Linked DNA regions of Homo sapiens. The protein of the gene in region 1 interacts with the protein of each later gene in a pairwise test. Each region holds a gene or a part of one and is shown on either strand. Other genes may lie near its edges.

The links.
Region 2: the proteins of TIAL1 (region 1) and RBPMS2 interact in binary tests that used the Homo sapiens proteins (3 or more experiments, as listed by UniProt).
Region 3: the proteins of TIAL1 (region 1) and MAPK1IP1L interact in binary tests that used the Homo sapiens proteins (3 or more experiments, as listed by UniProt).
Region 4: the proteins of TIAL1 (region 1) and SNRPA interact in binary tests that used the Homo sapiens proteins (3 or more experiments, as listed by UniProt).

Annotation. Positions count from the first base shown.
Region 1 is NC_000010.11:119,576,301-119,580,138, reverse strand, and holds part of TIAL1 (nucleolysin TIAR), read left to right. Parts: intron 1-128; coding exon 129-204; intron 205-1,304; coding exon 1,305-1,413; intron 1,414-2,402; coding exon 2,403-2,498; intron 2,499-2,603; coding exon 2,604-2,688; intron 2,689-2,935; coding exon 2,936-3,059; exon of another isoform or gene 3,060-3,233; coding exon of another isoform or gene 3,234-3,251; exon of another isoform or gene 3,252-3,388; coding exon 3,389-3,528; intron 3,529-3,838. UniProt on the Homo sapiens protein: RNA-binding protein involved in alternative pre-RNA splicing and in cytoplasmic stress granules formation. Shows a preference for uridine-rich RNAs.
Region 2 is NC_000015.10:64,748,034-64,751,871, reverse strand, and holds part of RBPMS2 (RNA-binding protein with multiple splicing 2), read left to right. Parts: intron 1-233; coding exon 234-311; intron 312-1,490; coding exon 1,491-1,529; intron 1,530-2,378; coding exon 2,379-2,441; intron 2,442-2,721; coding exon 2,722-2,872; intron 2,873-3,304; coding exon 3,305-3,453; intron 3,454-3,838.
Region 3 is NC_000014.9:55,058,008-55,061,845, forward strand, and holds part of MAPK1IP1L (MAPK-interacting and spindle-stabilizing protein-like), read left to right. Parts: intron 1-3,147; exon of another isoform or gene 3,148-3,164; coding exon of another isoform or gene 3,165-3,166; intron 3,167-3,672; coding exon of another isoform or gene 3,673-3,676; coding exon 3,677-3,694; intron 3,695-3,838.
Region 4 is NC_000019.10:40,757,389-40,761,226, forward strand, and holds part of SNRPA (U1 small nuclear ribonucleoprotein A), read left to right. Parts: coding exon 1-116; intron 117-2,042; coding exon 2,043-2,222; intron 2,223-3,838. UniProt on the Homo sapiens protein: Component of the spliceosomal U1 snRNP, which is essential for recognition of the pre-mRNA 5' splice-site and the subsequent assembly of the spliceosome. U1 snRNP is the first snRNP to interact with pre-mRNA.

The DNA.
Region 1 (3,838 bases):
TGTAGTTAATTAGGGCTAACTGGAATTTTATTTTAAAAATGCTCACAATACAGTGTGTGTGGTTCCTTTTAGTTTTTATTTTGAGGGTGGCTCTTACTTCCCTCATTTAGCTGTGCTTCTTTTCACAGGGATGCCCGGGTAGTTAAAGACATGGCAACTGGAAAATCCAAAGGCTATGGTTTTGTATCTTTTTATAACAAACTGGTACGTTCTTCCATCTCAATTTATATTTTTTAATACTAAATTTAGTCATTAGTTACTTAATGTATTGAATCTGAAACTTGAATATACTTGAATGTTAACTACAAACACAACTTTTATGTAATGTTATGTATGTTTTAATAATAGAGTATAATTTCATTCCTCTTTCATAAACTCGAAAATAAATAGCTAGAAAAAGAATGATTATACTATAAGGAAGATTATTAAAATTGTGTTTGTACATTGGTAAAGGTCAGATGGATTTAGAAGTAAAGCCCAAGTCTAGGACAGATGAGCTAATCTGAGAATTTAGAGGTTAGGTAAATTATATTCAGTTTTAACCATGAAAATCTCAGTTTTAACTCTACCTTTTAAATTATTATTCATACTCTTATATAACTGGGATGTGAATGACTACAACAAATTATGTAAATAAAAATTTAAGCAATTCATCTTGATTTTTGCATATATTCTTTGTAAAAGGGGTACCAAAGTAAGCATTTGCATTAACTGTAACATTAAATAATAAAGTGGGCTTTGATTTTAAAGCAGTTTCAATAACTTAAATCAATGTTTTGTTTTGTTTTGTTTTGTTTTTTTGAGATAGAGTCTCGCTCTGTTGCCCAGGCTGGAGTCCAGTGGTGCCATCTCAGCCCACTGCAACCTCCACCTCCCGGGTTCAAGCGATCGCGCTGCCTCAGCCTCCTGAGTAGCTGGGATTACAAGCATGTGCCACCACACCCAGCTCATTTTTATATTTTTGGTAGAGACATGGTTTCACTTGGGTTCGCCAGGCTAGTCTCAAACTTCTGATCTCAAGTGATCCTCCTGCCTTGGCCTCCCAAAGTGCTGGGATTACAGGTCATCTACATTTTATTGAAGTGGTAAGATAAAGGGCCAGAGTATTCTGTTTTTGCTTAGATTGAATCTCAAGTTCAAATCGTTTTCTAATTGGTAATAGTTCAGTTTCGTTTTGTTTAGGATATTTAGTAAATTCATCTACTGATTTGTATGGAACCAGCAGCGCCGATATTTTATTTCATCTTACAGAGTCTTATTTATCACTCTTTTCTTTGTGATTGTGCTTTCTTTTTTATCCATAGGATGCAGAAAATGCGATTGTGCATATGGGCGGTCAGTGGTTGGGTGGTCGTCAAATCCGAACCAATTGGGCCACTCGTAAACCACCTGCACCTAAAAGTACACAAGAAAGTAAGATATGTCCACTGTGTGTGTTAAAATTATATTCTTCACAAAATCATGTATCATGTATTCATCTAGTCTCAATTTCTAATTTATTTATGTAAGAGACAGGGTCTTGCTCTGTTGCCCAGGCTGGAGTGCGGTGGCATGATCTTAGCTCACTGTAGCCTGAAACTCCTGGGTATAAGTGATCCTTTCACCTCAGCCTCCTGAGTAACTGAGACTACAGGGACATGCCACCATGCCCAGCTAATTTGTAATTTTTTTATAGAGACAGGGTCTGGTTACGTTGTCCAGGCTGACGTAGTATTTAATTAGTGTTGCAAGACTCTAATTATTTCATTTTATATTTCATTATCTGAAAATAATTGGGCTGTGGTATAAGTATTTTTGGAGCTGTGAATCACCTGATTTTATAGATCAAGTCTGTGTCAAATCATAGCATCAAGAAAAATTATGTTTTCTCCTCCCATTGAGGCATATCTTTTTTTTTTTTTTTTTTTTTTTTTTGAGGTGGAGTCTCGCTCTGTCACCCAGGCTGGAGTACAGTGGTGCGATCTCAGTTCACTGCAACCTCCGCCTCGCAGGTTCAAGCGATTCTCCTGCCTCAGCCTCCTGAGTGGCTGGAATTACAGGCGTGTGCCACCACACCCAGCCAATTTTTGTATTTTTAGTAGAGACAGGGTTTCACCGTGTTGGTCAGGCTGGTCTCGAACTCGTGACCTCGTGATCCACCTGCCTCAGCCTCCCAAAGTGCTGGGATTACAGGCGTGAGCCACCGTGCCCTGCCTTAATTTTTGTATTTTTAGTAGAGACAGGATTTCGTCATGTTGGCCAGGCTGGTCTCGAACTCCTGACCTCAGGTGATCTGCCCACCTCAGCCTCCCAAAGTGCTGGGTGCCCGGCCTGAGGCATATCTTAATAGTATATAGTAATTAACAGAAGAGTTTCATAGTACAATATAACAGTCAACGTTTTTGTTTTGTTTCTGCATACAGACAACACTAAGCAGTTGAGATTTGAAGATGTAGTAAACCAGTCAAGTCCAAAAAATTGTACTGTGTACTGTGGAGGAATTGCGTCTGGGTTAACAGGTACAATGTTTGGTTTTCTAATCACCTCTGAGGAGCTTCATCACTGTTCATATGAATTTCATGATACACATCAGCCATGTTTTATTTGTATGTTTTGTTTTATAGATCAGCTTATGAGACAGACATTCTCACCATTTGGACAAATTATGGAAATAAGAGTTTTCCCAGAAAAGGGCTATTCATTTGTCAGGTAACACTCTACTTGAAATATCATTATTACTCTTATATTTGATTCATTCCTTTCACTTATGTTCTCCAGGGTATCAGTGTTTGTTATTTTAGTGCTTCTTTGCAGTATAGAAGTTTAAGCTACCTACCTAATGTACTTTAGAAAAAAAATACCAACTTGCAGGTGTAAACTGATGAGTTTCCATGTTATTTATTGTGTTAGGTTCTTAAAAAATAAAAGACAAAACCATATCATTTTTCTTTCTTAGATTTTCAACCCATGAAAGTGCAGCCCATGCCATTGTTTCGGTGAACGGTACTACGATTGAAGGACATGTGGTTAAATGCTATTGGGGTAAAGAATCTCCTGATATGACTAAAAACTTCCAACAGGTAATTCGATTTTTCATAGCATTCTTTAAGGTTTCCATCTTACATGTCACATAAAAGCTTTGGAAACTCTGTAAAATGAACAATAAAATAAAGCATATAGCTACTTTCAGTTGATTGTATTTCAAAATTGATTATTTGCGGTATTAACTGAATCTTAATACTTTCTTTTCACAGGTGTCACCACCCCAATAAACTTAGACAATGATAAATAACAGAGTCCTATTCACATAAGGGTGCTTACTTAGTTTTTCTCTTCCTTGTCTCCCACTCTTTCTTCATATACGGTGTTTCTTATGTGTTCCCTAAAACAATACTTTGCTTTTTCCTAGGTTGACTATAGTCAATGGGGCCAATGGAGCCAAGTGTATGGAAACCCACAACAGTATGGACAGTATATGGCAAATGGGTGGCAAGTACCGCCTTATGGAGTATACGGGCAACCATGGAATCAACAAGGATTTGGAGTAGAGTAAGTTGTTTGGGTTTTTCCAGTATAGAAACGTATGGTTCTGACAAAATAAATAAAAGTGTGTTTTCCTAGGGAGAATCTATTTTAATTATATACATTGAGCTATTTGGCATTATGAGCATTATAGAAACTAATCTAACAAAATATGATTTATGAGGCTAAGAAATTACTTCTCATTACCTAGGTGGAAAGGGGGGATTGGGGTAACATTTAGTGTGTCCTATGATCCCTGTAAGCAGTTGGTAGAATTTGATTTACATTTCTGATACACTTTTATTTATTTTTGCATGTAAAAGATCTTTGTCCAGAT
Region 2 (3,838 bases), on another chromosome or scaffold:
ATCCGGCAGACGCAGCACGATGCCTCTGGGATGTACCCAGAGAAAGGAAAGGGCTTTGAGAAATTGAGTGCTGTGAAACAATGTTAATTTGCCTTGGGTATCCAAGGAGGCCCAGGAAAGGCTGAATTCCTCTAAGCTCTAGAAGGATTCCAGTTGCCTGCCTGAAGGAAGCGCTGTTGTCATCCCTGTCCGTCTTGGGCAGCCTGGCCCTGATCACTGGTCTCTGTCTCCAGGTCCGGACACTGTTTGTCAGCGGCCTCCCTGTGGACATTAAACCCAGAGAACTCTACTTGCTCTTCCGGCCGTTCAAGGTGAGTCAGGACCCAGCCGCCCCCTGGGTAGAGCCTGGGACCCTGGAGAAGCAGCGGGAGTGAATCTCGGGTCGGGCAGGGCAGCAGGATGATGCGGGAAGGCGTGGCAGAAGCTGTGGGGGCAGGTCCAGCCCGTGTCCTGGTTCTGCGAATTCACATGCTGCCTTCTGAGCCTCTGTTTCCTCGCCAGTTAAATGGAGACAGTAAGAATCTTTTTTTTTTTTTCCTCGAGACGAGTCTTGCTCTGCCGCCCAGGCTAGAGTGCAGTGGCTTGATCTCGGCTCACTGCAACCGCTGCCTCCTGGGTTCAAGCAATTCTCCTGCCTCAGCCTCCCAAGTAGCTAGGATTACAGGCATGCGCCATTATGCCCGGCTAATATTTGTGTTTTCAGTAGAGATGGGGTTTCACCATGTTGGTCAGGCTGGTCTTGAACTCCTGACCTCGTGATCCGCCCGCCCCGGCCTCCCAAAGTGCTGGGATTACAGGTGTGAGCCACGGCGCTTGTCCTTTTTGTTTGTTTTGTTTTGAGACAGAGTCTCACTCAGTTGCCCAGGCTGGAGTGCAGTGGCGTGCGGCTCACTGCAACCTCCGCCTCCTGGGTTCAGGCGATTCTCCTGCCTCTGCCTCCCGAGTAGCTGGGACTACAGGCACCCTCCACCATGCCTGGCTAGTTTTTGTATTTTTAGTAGAGATGGGGTTTCACCATATTGGCCATGATGGTCTGGATCTCTTGACCTTGTGATCTGCCCGCCTCGGCCTCCCAAAGTGCTGGGATTACAGACGTGAGCCATGATGCCCAGCTAACAGTAAGAATCTTTAAATATATGTGGTTATATAAAGAATCTTTGAGATTCAGTGTAGCCTTTTCAGTTTGCAGATGAGAAAACTTAAAAGGTAAGGTCTGTGCTCTCGGGTTACTAGTTAGTGGAGCAAATGGGAATTTCTGCCTGAAGTGATGAGTGCTGCCGCGTGATGCCCACCCTATGTGCTAGACCGCGTGATTCAGAACGCAGGGCGGTGGACGTTTGGCAGTGGCGGAGGTCAGGGTGGGTTGATGTTGACAGGGAGAAGGGTGTGAGAATGACTCAGGGGAACGCGGGGGCTGATGAGGTGGCAGCGCTGGGCTAGCACAACATACGCTTCTGACCTTCCACGGTAACAGCCACCTCTCTCCGCAGGGGTATGAAGGGTCCCTGATCAAGCTCACTGCAAGACAGGTAATTTCTCTCCTAGGGTTTTCTTCCTCCCAGCCCAGACCGGCTGCTGAGCTTCAAACAAGGGCCCGTTAACCCTTCCCTAATCTAGAGGCATCTGGCGGTACAGACTTGCGCTCCCTGTTGTCCTGTTTCTGACAGAGCAGCCTCTGTAGGTCCCACTGTCTCTTCACTGGCCATCTGAGCCCAGCCAGCTCCTGGTCCTCCCTGTCTGTTTCTTAGGAATCTGGGAGCCCCGCTGGCTGAGGACAGTAAAGCAGTTAGCTGAGCTCTAGCTTTTTTTTTTTTTGAGATGGAGTTTTGCTCTTGTTGCCCAGGCTGGAGTGCAATGGCACGATTGAGCTCTAGCTTTTAATACAAGGAGGCCAGGGCCCGCTAGCCTTTGGGGGCTATTTGGGGTCTAGACTGATCCTTGGGAAAATGAAGTTGGAGCAGTTTTCAACCTATTGCTCCTTGATAGAACCGGAGTCTTCCCATGCCCTTGATACATTGGTGTCCCCTTTCTTGCTGGGGAAAACACTGGGACTTACTTTTAGTTATCTGCATGCATTAAAAACAATACTTTTACTAAAAGGGCGACGTTTAATTCAGTGGAATTAAGCTCTGTTGGCATCATTTCCCACAGGATATTCCTGGGGAGGGAGACTTGACTTTTGGTGCATGTTAAACTGCTGTTCCAGTGAACAGGGAGGATGTGGGCTGGAGTTTTGGGGGGCTTTTTTTCCTTTTGTATTCTCATCAGCAGGGCAAATACTGTTTCCACATAGATGATACTCTTTTTTTGTTGTTATTTTGGAGGGAGAGGTGGAATGCTAGGAGAGATATAAGGGTGTTCTCTCTTTTTCCTACTAGCCTGTTGGTTTTGTGATCTTTGACAGCCGTGCAGGAGCAGAAGCGGCCAAGAATGCGCTGAACGTGAGTAGGTGGAGAACAGGTCTTCTCTGACTCACAGCCCTCTTAGGCAGTGGGTGTGCAGATGTATCTTATTTCCCGGCCATCCCTGGGCAGAGTCCTTGGCGACACTGTCTGTGCCAAAGGCCATTACTCAAGGCCTGAGCTGCCTTTCCTCTGCCTCAGCCACCGTGTGGGCAGGTCTTCGAGGCGAGCTTGTTTATGGCGCCCTTCTCTACTCTCTGCCATTAACACTCTGGGTCCCCCGGAGTAAGCCTTTCTCTTCTTTTCTCTACCCATGTAGGGTATTCGCTTTGATCCCGAAAATCCACAGACTCTGAGGCTAGAGTTTGCCAAAGCCAACACCAAGATGGCCAAGAGCAAGCTAATGGCAACTCCAAATCCCAGCAACGTGCACCCCGCCCTAGGAGCACACTTCATCGCACGGGACCCCTGTGAGTGGCACTCTGAGCTGGCAGGCCCTCATGGAGTTGCATTCAGGGCAGACTTGCAGGCTCTTGCAGAGGGAAGCCCCTTTTCCAGGAGGCTTTTTGTGTCCACGGCCACCCATTTTTGAAACACCTGGTTTTCCTCCCTCCCCTGCAGCCTGCCTAGAATTTCTGAGCTGCCAGGGCTTCCAGCTTCCCTGCAACCTTCTTTAATTTCTCATTTGAGACGAGCTGAGGCCTGTCTTAAAGCAGGCAGGATGCACACCATGACAGGCCGATTTAACGTGGCTTCCTTGCCTGGTCTCGGGGTCCTCTGTGGTTGGGGGTGGTCTGGCCTCAGTGTGGGGCATATGGCTCAACCATAGTGCTGGGTCCCCTTCTCCGTTTGGAAGGGGAGGCGAGTGTTCTGATGATGGAGGCCATTGTCTCCTGTTGTAGATGACCTGATGGGGGCTGCTCTGATCCCTGCATCCCCAGAGGCCTGGGCCCCCTACCCTTTGTACACCACAGAGCTGACCCCAGCCATCTCCCATGCTGCGTTCACCTACCCAACTGCCACTGCCGCTGCCGCCGCCCTCCACGCTCAGGTAAGCCCTTTAAGGTTGGGGAGGGCGAAGAACAAGGGCTCTTAGCTGGCCAGACTTTGCATGTGCCTGGCCACTTGGCCGCTGCTGTCCCAGAGCTGCAGCAGAACTCTTGTCTTCCTTGATGGTTTGAAAGCCCAGACCCCAGGGACCTATTTGTCCTCCCCTTGGGTTTAGGATTTGACAGGGAGGGAGAAGATAACCCACGAGTTCCCATGGAGGATGCCAGGCAGCCCAGCTGTGGTTCCCCAGCCCCAAGCACCCCTGCCCAGGCACCGACTATGTTCTCCCATGGTGATGGGACTATGATTCCAGTCCTAACCTGGGTATGGTCTCTGGAGTCAGACCATCTGCCTCTGCCCCTTCCTGTCCCTTTCATCAAGCTCTT
Region 3 (3,838 bases), on another chromosome or scaffold:
CTCTTCCAGTTCAGGGTCTCAATGGCTGGAGCCTTTCTTGGCAATTCAGAGTCCAAGTTGGGAACCAGCCCTGAACTGGACGCCATCCCAGCACAGGGTGCTCTCACCTACACCCACGCTCACAGACTGGGCCGCGTAGACACATCCATTCATGTGCATCTTTGGGATATGGGAGGAAACTGGAGTACTTGGAGAAGACCCATAAAGATGGGAGAATGAGCCAGCTTCACACAGACAGTGACCTCAGCTGAGACTTTTTGTTTTTTCTTCTCATCAACATTATAACAAAACAAAGTTGAATGAAACGTCTTTCGAGGACCTGCTATAGACTAAAATTTTAAAACCCTGTCCCATATATGAACGAACAATTAGAAAATACAGTAGAAGAAAAGAGCCTATTTACAACCACAGGGAAAAGTTTAACAGAAATCCCTTAAAAGAAATGTATATAGGAGATCTGATCAAGAAAATAAACTACATGAAAAGGACAGGAACTAAACAGTCCTCTGTGTCTGCATTTGCGGGTAGAAAATATTCAGGGAGCCGGGTGCGGTGGCTCATGCCTGTAATCCCAGCACTTTGGGAGGCTGAGGCGGGCGGATCACGTGAGGCCAGGAGTTCAAGAGCAGCCTGGCCAACGTGGTGAAACCCTGTCTCTATTAAAAATACAAAAAATTAGCCGGGCATGGCGGCGCTTGCCTATAATCCCAGTTACTCAGGAGGCTGAGGCAGGAGAATCTCTTGAACCCAGGAGATGGAGGTTGCAGTGAGCTGACATCATGCTATTGCACTCTAGCCTGGGCAACAGAGTGAGACCCTGTCTCAAAAAAAAAAAAATACTTGGGGGAAACAATAAAAATAACCATAGAAAATATAAGTTAATATAATTATATAGTATTCACACTTTTAAGTATTATAAATAATATAGAGATGATTTATACGGGAAGATGTGCATAGGTTATATGCAAATACTACACCATTTTATATCAGGTACTTGAGCATCCTGGGATTTGAGTATCTATGGGGGTCCTAGAACCAATCTCCCTCAGGTACCGAGGGACTATACTATACCTTGTTCTTGAACGAGATGATTTGACATTTTAAATAGATGTTCCCCTAGATTAATCTGTAAATATAATACATTTCCAACCAGAATGCTAACACATTAATTTTTTTTTTTAACGATCTGGAAAAAATAAAAATACATAGGAAAATCTGAAAAAAAAAAAAAAAAAAAAGACAGTAGGGTGACTCACATTAATGTTTATTTAAAATATATTGTAAAGCTTCTGTAATTAAAATGGAATGGTACAGTTGCAGACCAGTAGAAAAGAATAAAGTCAGCTGGGCACAGTATCTCACGCCTGTAATCCCAAGACTTTGGGAGGCCGAGGCAGGCAGATCACTTGAGCTCCGGAGTTCAAGACCAGCCTGGGCAACATGGTGAAACTCCATCTCTACAAAAAAACTAGCTGGGCAGGATCGATTGAGCCCAGAAGGTCGAGTCTGCAGTGAGCTTATGATGGTGCCACTGCACTCTGGCCAGGGAACAAAGCAAGACTGTTTCAAAAAGAAAAGAATAAAGTCCACAATATCTGTGGGAAATGAAGGAGGCTCTATAGCCTGCTTGTTAAGAGCCTAAGTTCTGGAGTCATACTGGGTTTGAACTGCTTCTCTCCTTGTCATTAGCTCTGGGACCTTAAACAAGTTAACTTGCCAAGCTTCCTCTTCTCCAGCTGTAAACTGGGGGTGAAAATAAAATTTGTATCTGGGTTCTGGAGCTACCAAGTGAGGTGGTGCACAGTACACCACCATGTTCCATGTTTCATGGTAAATATTGGATAGATGCTAGTTATAAATGGCAGCAGTATAGTGTAGTAAAGGTAGCTTGTCCAATTAGCTGAGAAAAGATAGATAGTTGATAATTATTGTTTGGAAGAATTTAAAGGTTTTAAACAAGAAGTTAAACCATAAAAATACTATATGAAAGCAAGGCAGAGTAGGGAAGGCCTTTGTAAATATATCACAAAATCCAGAAGCCACGTATAGGAAAACATTGATAGATTTGATGACATGAAATTTAAAACTTTTGTATAACCAAAATATGCCCTTTAAGAGATCTACAGATAAAAGGAATTTTGGAGAAATTTTTTTTTTTTTTTTTTTTTTTTTTTTTTTTTTTGATATGGAGTAGCCCTCCGTTGCCCAGGCTGGAGTGCAGTGGCGCAATCTCGGCTCACTGCAAGCTCCGCCTCCCAGGTTCATGCCATTCTCCTGCCTCAGCCTCCCAAGTAGCTGGGACTACAGGCACCCGCCACCACACTGGGCTAATCGTTTTTTTGTATTTTTAGTAGAGACGGGGTTTCACCGTGTTAGCCAGGATGGTCTCGATCTCTTGACCTCGTGATCCGCCTGCCTCGGCCTCCCAAAGTGCTGGGATTATAGGCGTGAGCCACTGCACCCGGCCAAAAAATTTTAATCTCATATATGAAAGCTAGTCTGCTTAGTATCTTACAAAGCAGTGAGAGAAAAAGATGTGCTACTGAGTAATAAAATGATCAAAGGCAAAGAGTACCTACAGTCTTTTATTTATATAAAGTCAAAGAACAAGCAAAATTAAGTCAAAAATTGACTGCCATGAGGCAAGGTAGTTGATTGGAAAAGAGCATGAGTAAACTTTCTGGAGTGAGAAATGTTCTGTATCTTGGGGTGGTTATAGGGGCGTATACAATTATCAGAGCTTGTTAATCTGAACACTTAAGATCTCTGCATTTTGTTGAGTGCTAATTACACTTCAATTTAAAAATTGGTAAAAGTACTCCAGGACATCAATAAATTTAAATTTGGGAGTACACACAGTGGCTCATGGCTATAATCCCAATACTTTGGGAGGCTGAGGCAGGAGGGTCCTTTGATCCCAGGAGTTTGAGACCGGGTCTGGGCAACATAGTGAGACACCTGTCTCTGCAATAAATTTTTAAAATTTTAAGAAATTTGCTGGGCATGATGGCACACACCTGTAGTACCGGCTATTAGGGAGACTGAGGCAAGAAGATGACTTGAGCCCAGGAGGTCAAGATTGCAGTGAGCTGTGATCTCTCTCGCCACTGCACTCCAGCCTGGGTGACAGAATGAGACCCTGTCTCCAAAAAAAAGACGAGGAAATGTAAGTTAAAATAAGACGCTAATTTTTAATATCTATTGTCATTATAAACAATAAATTTAATAATATCCAGTGGTAAAAGGAGTTAGAGAAATGAGTGTAAATTGGCATGGACTTTTCAAATGGATTTTAGATAAATTTATCTGTTGACTCTAAATTCCATGTCCAGTGCTTTTTCCTGGTGTTAGATTCTCACACACAAACAAAGAAGTGTTGAGAGATGTTCACTGTATCATACTTAAAACAACTTATACTGCTACAAAAAGAAGGTAAATTAAATTGCAAATCATTTTTGTATGATGTGCAGCCATTAAAAGGGATGAAGTTAATAGAGCTGTATGAACTATTATGGAAAACTTTCCTATGTAAAGAAAAACACATTACATAAATAAGATTCCGCTTAAGTAATAATAATGTATGCATAGAAAGTTCCTTAAGGAATATTTAAGAAATGGTGAACACTGATTTTGAAATTTTTCTTTCTTCCTTCATTTCTTTTCTTTTTTTAGGAAAATGTCTGATGAATTTTCGGTAAGTTGATCAGTTTATCTGTGATAAGTTTTTCATCTCTTAAGAAAAACAACATGGTCCTAACTGGGCTACGTAAATCTTTTCACTTAAAAGAGATGCTTTAACCAGGCATGGTGGTGTGCACCTGTAGTCCTAGCTACTTGG
Region 4 (3,838 bases), on another chromosome or scaffold:
TGGTATCACGGAGCCTGAAGATGAGGGGCCAGGCCTTTGTCATCTTCAAGGAGGTCAGCAGCGCCACCAACGCCCTGCGCTCCATGCAGGGTTTCCCTTTCTATGACAAACCTATGGTGAGCATTGCGGGTACGGAGGCTGTGTGGGTGTGTAAAATGTTATAGGAGACTGGGCGGGCCTGGATTAGAGGAGGGGATATTACGGTTCATTTGCCAAGGTGAGGCTGGACCAGGCTCCCACTGCACCTTGCCTCATTTAAAAATCTTTTCTTTGGCCGAGGGCGGTGGCTCACGTCTGTAATCCTGGCACTTTGGGAGGCCGAGGCAGGTGGATTACCTGAGCTCAGGAGTTTGCAGCCAGCCTGGGCAACACCGTGAAACCCTGTCTCTACTAAAATACAAAAATTAGCTCGGTGTGGCAGCATGCACCTGTAGTCCCAGCTACTCCTGTGGCTGAGGAAGGAGAATTGCTTGAACCCGGGAGGCAGAGATTGCAGTGAGCCGAGATCCTGCCACTGCACTCCAGCCTAGGCAACAGAGTGAGACTCTGTCTCAGAAAAAATAAATAAATAAATAAATAAATAAATAAATTATTTTGAGACAGAATCTTCCTCTGTTGCCCAGGCTGGAGTGCAGTGGTGCAATCTTGGCTCACTGCAACCTCCACCTCCCGGGTTCAAGTGATTCTCCTGCCTCAGCCTCCTGAGTAGCTGGGATTACAGGCACGTGCCACCATACCTGGCTGATTTTTTTATTTTTAGTAGAGACGGGGTTTCGCCATGTTGCCCAGGCTGGTCTCAAACTCCTGAGCTCAAGTGATCTGCCTGCCTCAGCCTCCCAAAGTGCTAGGATTACAGGCGTGAGCTACTGTGCCACACTAAGAATCTTTAACATACCTTCCCCTACTGAATAAGCACCATGAAAGAGGGGTTTTTGTCTATTTTGTTCATTGCTTTATTCCCAGAGCCTTGAATGGCGCCTGGCATCTGGCAGGTTCTCCTTAAACAGCTAAGTGAGTGAGATTGAACCTGGAAGACTGAAGTATTCTTGTGTGACAGGAAATCCCCCTGCACTGCACTCCTCTCCTAGCATTGTCTCCTCGGTCCTTTGGCCTGATGTTTATTGCTGTTCCAGCTTCCCTTAAAAATACCAACAGCCTTTCTACTGAACACTTGCTTACTGTGTGTCAGGTACTGTTCCAAGCACTTTAACTCATTTAGTCCTCACAACAGTCCTTTGAAGTGGGAAGTATCATAATCCCCATTTTTCAGACAAGGAAGTTAAGGCCAAGATATTTCTGTGTTTCTCAGTAAGCTCCTGATAAGGTCTGAATTTTTTTTTGTTTGTTTGTTTTTTGTTTTTTGTTTTTTGCTCTGTTGCCTGGGCTGGAGTGCAGTGGTGCCATCTCAGCTGACTGCAACCTTCGCCTCCTGGGTTCAAGCGATTCTTCTGCCTCAGCCTCTTGAGTAGCTGGGACTACAGGTGCGCACCACCATGCCCAGCTAATTTTTGTATTTTTGGTAGAAATGGGGTTTCCTGGCCAGGCGCAGTGGCTCATGCCTGTAATCCCAGCACTTTCGGAGGCCGAGGTGGGTGGATCACCTGAGGTCAGGAGTTCGAGACCAGCCTGGCCAACATGGTGAAACCCTGTCTCTACTAAAAGCACAAAAATTAGCCAGGCGTGGTGGTGGGCGCCTGTAATCCCAGCTAGTAGGGAGGCTGAGGCAGAATTGCTTGAACCCGGGAGGCAGAGGTTGCAGTCAGCTGAGATCTCATCACTGCACTCTAGCCTGGGTGACAGAGCAAGACAATGTCTCAAAAAAAAAAAAAAAAGAAAAGAAACAAAGAAATGGGGTTTTGCCATGTTGGCCAAGCTGGTCTCCACCTCCTGGCCTCAAGTGATCTGCTCGCTTTAGCCTCCCAAAGGGCTGGGATTACAGGCATGAGCCGCAGCACCTGGCCCCTGATAAAGGTCCAATTTTGAATCTTGGCAATTGGGCTCTGAATCCACGCTCTTAACCCGTTCTGCTCTCTGTTTGGTAGCGTATCCAGTATGCCAAGACCGACTCAGATATCATTGCCAAGATGAAAGGCACCTTCGTGGAGCGGGACCGCAAGCGGGAGAAGAGGAAGCCCAAGAGCCAGGAGACCCCGGCCACCAAGAAGGCTGTGCAAGGCGGGGGAGCCACCCCCGTGGTGGGGGCTGTCCAGGGGCCTGTCCCGGTAAGCCAGGTCCCGGAGACCAACCCTCCCACTGCCAGACCTTCCTCAGCCACATGGACTGGCTTTGGGACAGGGTGGGGAGAGTTCTCCCCTTGGGGCTTCAGACCCCTCCTTTCCATTTCTTTATAGAGATGTGTTTCTCTCTCTCTTTTGGGGGGTATTGAGCACCTAGATGATGCTATCTCCTTTCGAAACTCTTGTTCCCTCCTTGTGACTGTTTCTCAAGGTCTTTCTTCATGGCTATGACTTGGTTTCGCTCTCTCCGTGGCCTTGATTTTGTCGCCTGTGTCTTGTAACTCATTGTGCATGTAGAAAATCCAAGTGTCTACTAAGCAACTGTTAGGATTAATAAGTGAACTTAAATTTAGAAAGATCGCTGGATATAAAGGCAATATGGAAAAAAATTAGTTTTATTTATTTATTCATATTATGTTTTGAGACAGGGTCTCACTGTCACCCAGGTTGGAGTGCAGTGGCGCCATCACAGCTCACTACAACCTCCGCCTCCCAGGCTCAAGTGATACGCCTCAGCCTCCCTAGCAGCTGGAACTGTCAGTCCGTGCCACTCCACCCAGCTAACTTTTGCATTTTTTGTAGAGACGGGGCTTAGCCATATCACCCAGGCTAGTCTCAAACTCACTGTCTCAGCCTCCCAAAGTGCTAGGATTACATGCATGAGCCACCATGGCTGGCCCCCAGTTTTATTTTTATATGCCAGTAACAGACCAGTAGACTTCACATTGAAAAGTAGCACTGAGGGGTAAATCCAACAAAAGGTTTGCAGAACGACTACACTGAAATCACAGAATGTAGCTGGGAGAAATCAGAGACTCAGCAATGGATAGGAAGACTCAGTATTGTCAAGAGGTCAGTTCCATCCAAATTAATTGAAGATTCAACGTGATTGCAATCAAAATCCCACCAGGAATTTCGGTAAACACTGGACACTGATTGGCTCTTTCTAAATGTGTGGAAAGACAAGGCCAAGCCAGGCGAGGAGAATAAAGCACCAGGACCTGCATGACCAGGGGAAGCTCCAGCAACCAGGCCAGGCCCAATGGCTCATGCCTGTAATCCCAGCACTTTGGGAGGCCAAGATAGGAGGATTGCTTTAGGTCAGGAGTTCAAGACCAGCCTCTATAAAATAGCAAGACCTCATCTCTACAAAAAATAAAATAGAAAACTGGGCGTGGTGACTCATTCCTGTAGTCCCAGCTGCTCAGGAGGCTGAGCTGGGAGGATCGCTTGAGAACTGGAGGTCAAGGCTGCAGTGAACAGTGGTTTTGTCACTGCACTCCAGCCTGGGTAACAGAGTGAGACCTTGTCTCTTTTTTGTTTTGTTTTGTTTTCTTTTGTTTTTTTTCGGGAGGGAGTCTCAGTCAATCTGTCTCCCCAGGCTGGAATGCAGTCGTGCAATCTCGGCTCACTGCAACCTCTGCCTCTCAAGTTCAAGTGATCTTCTGCCTCAGCCTCCCAAGTAGCTGGATCACAGGCACATGCCACCACGTCCATGTGCAAAAAAAAAAAAAAAACCTGCAGCAACCAACCAGGATGATATACAGTTGGCAGAAGGGTAGGAAGACAGACCAAGGGGACAGGATGAAGAGTCTAGGTAC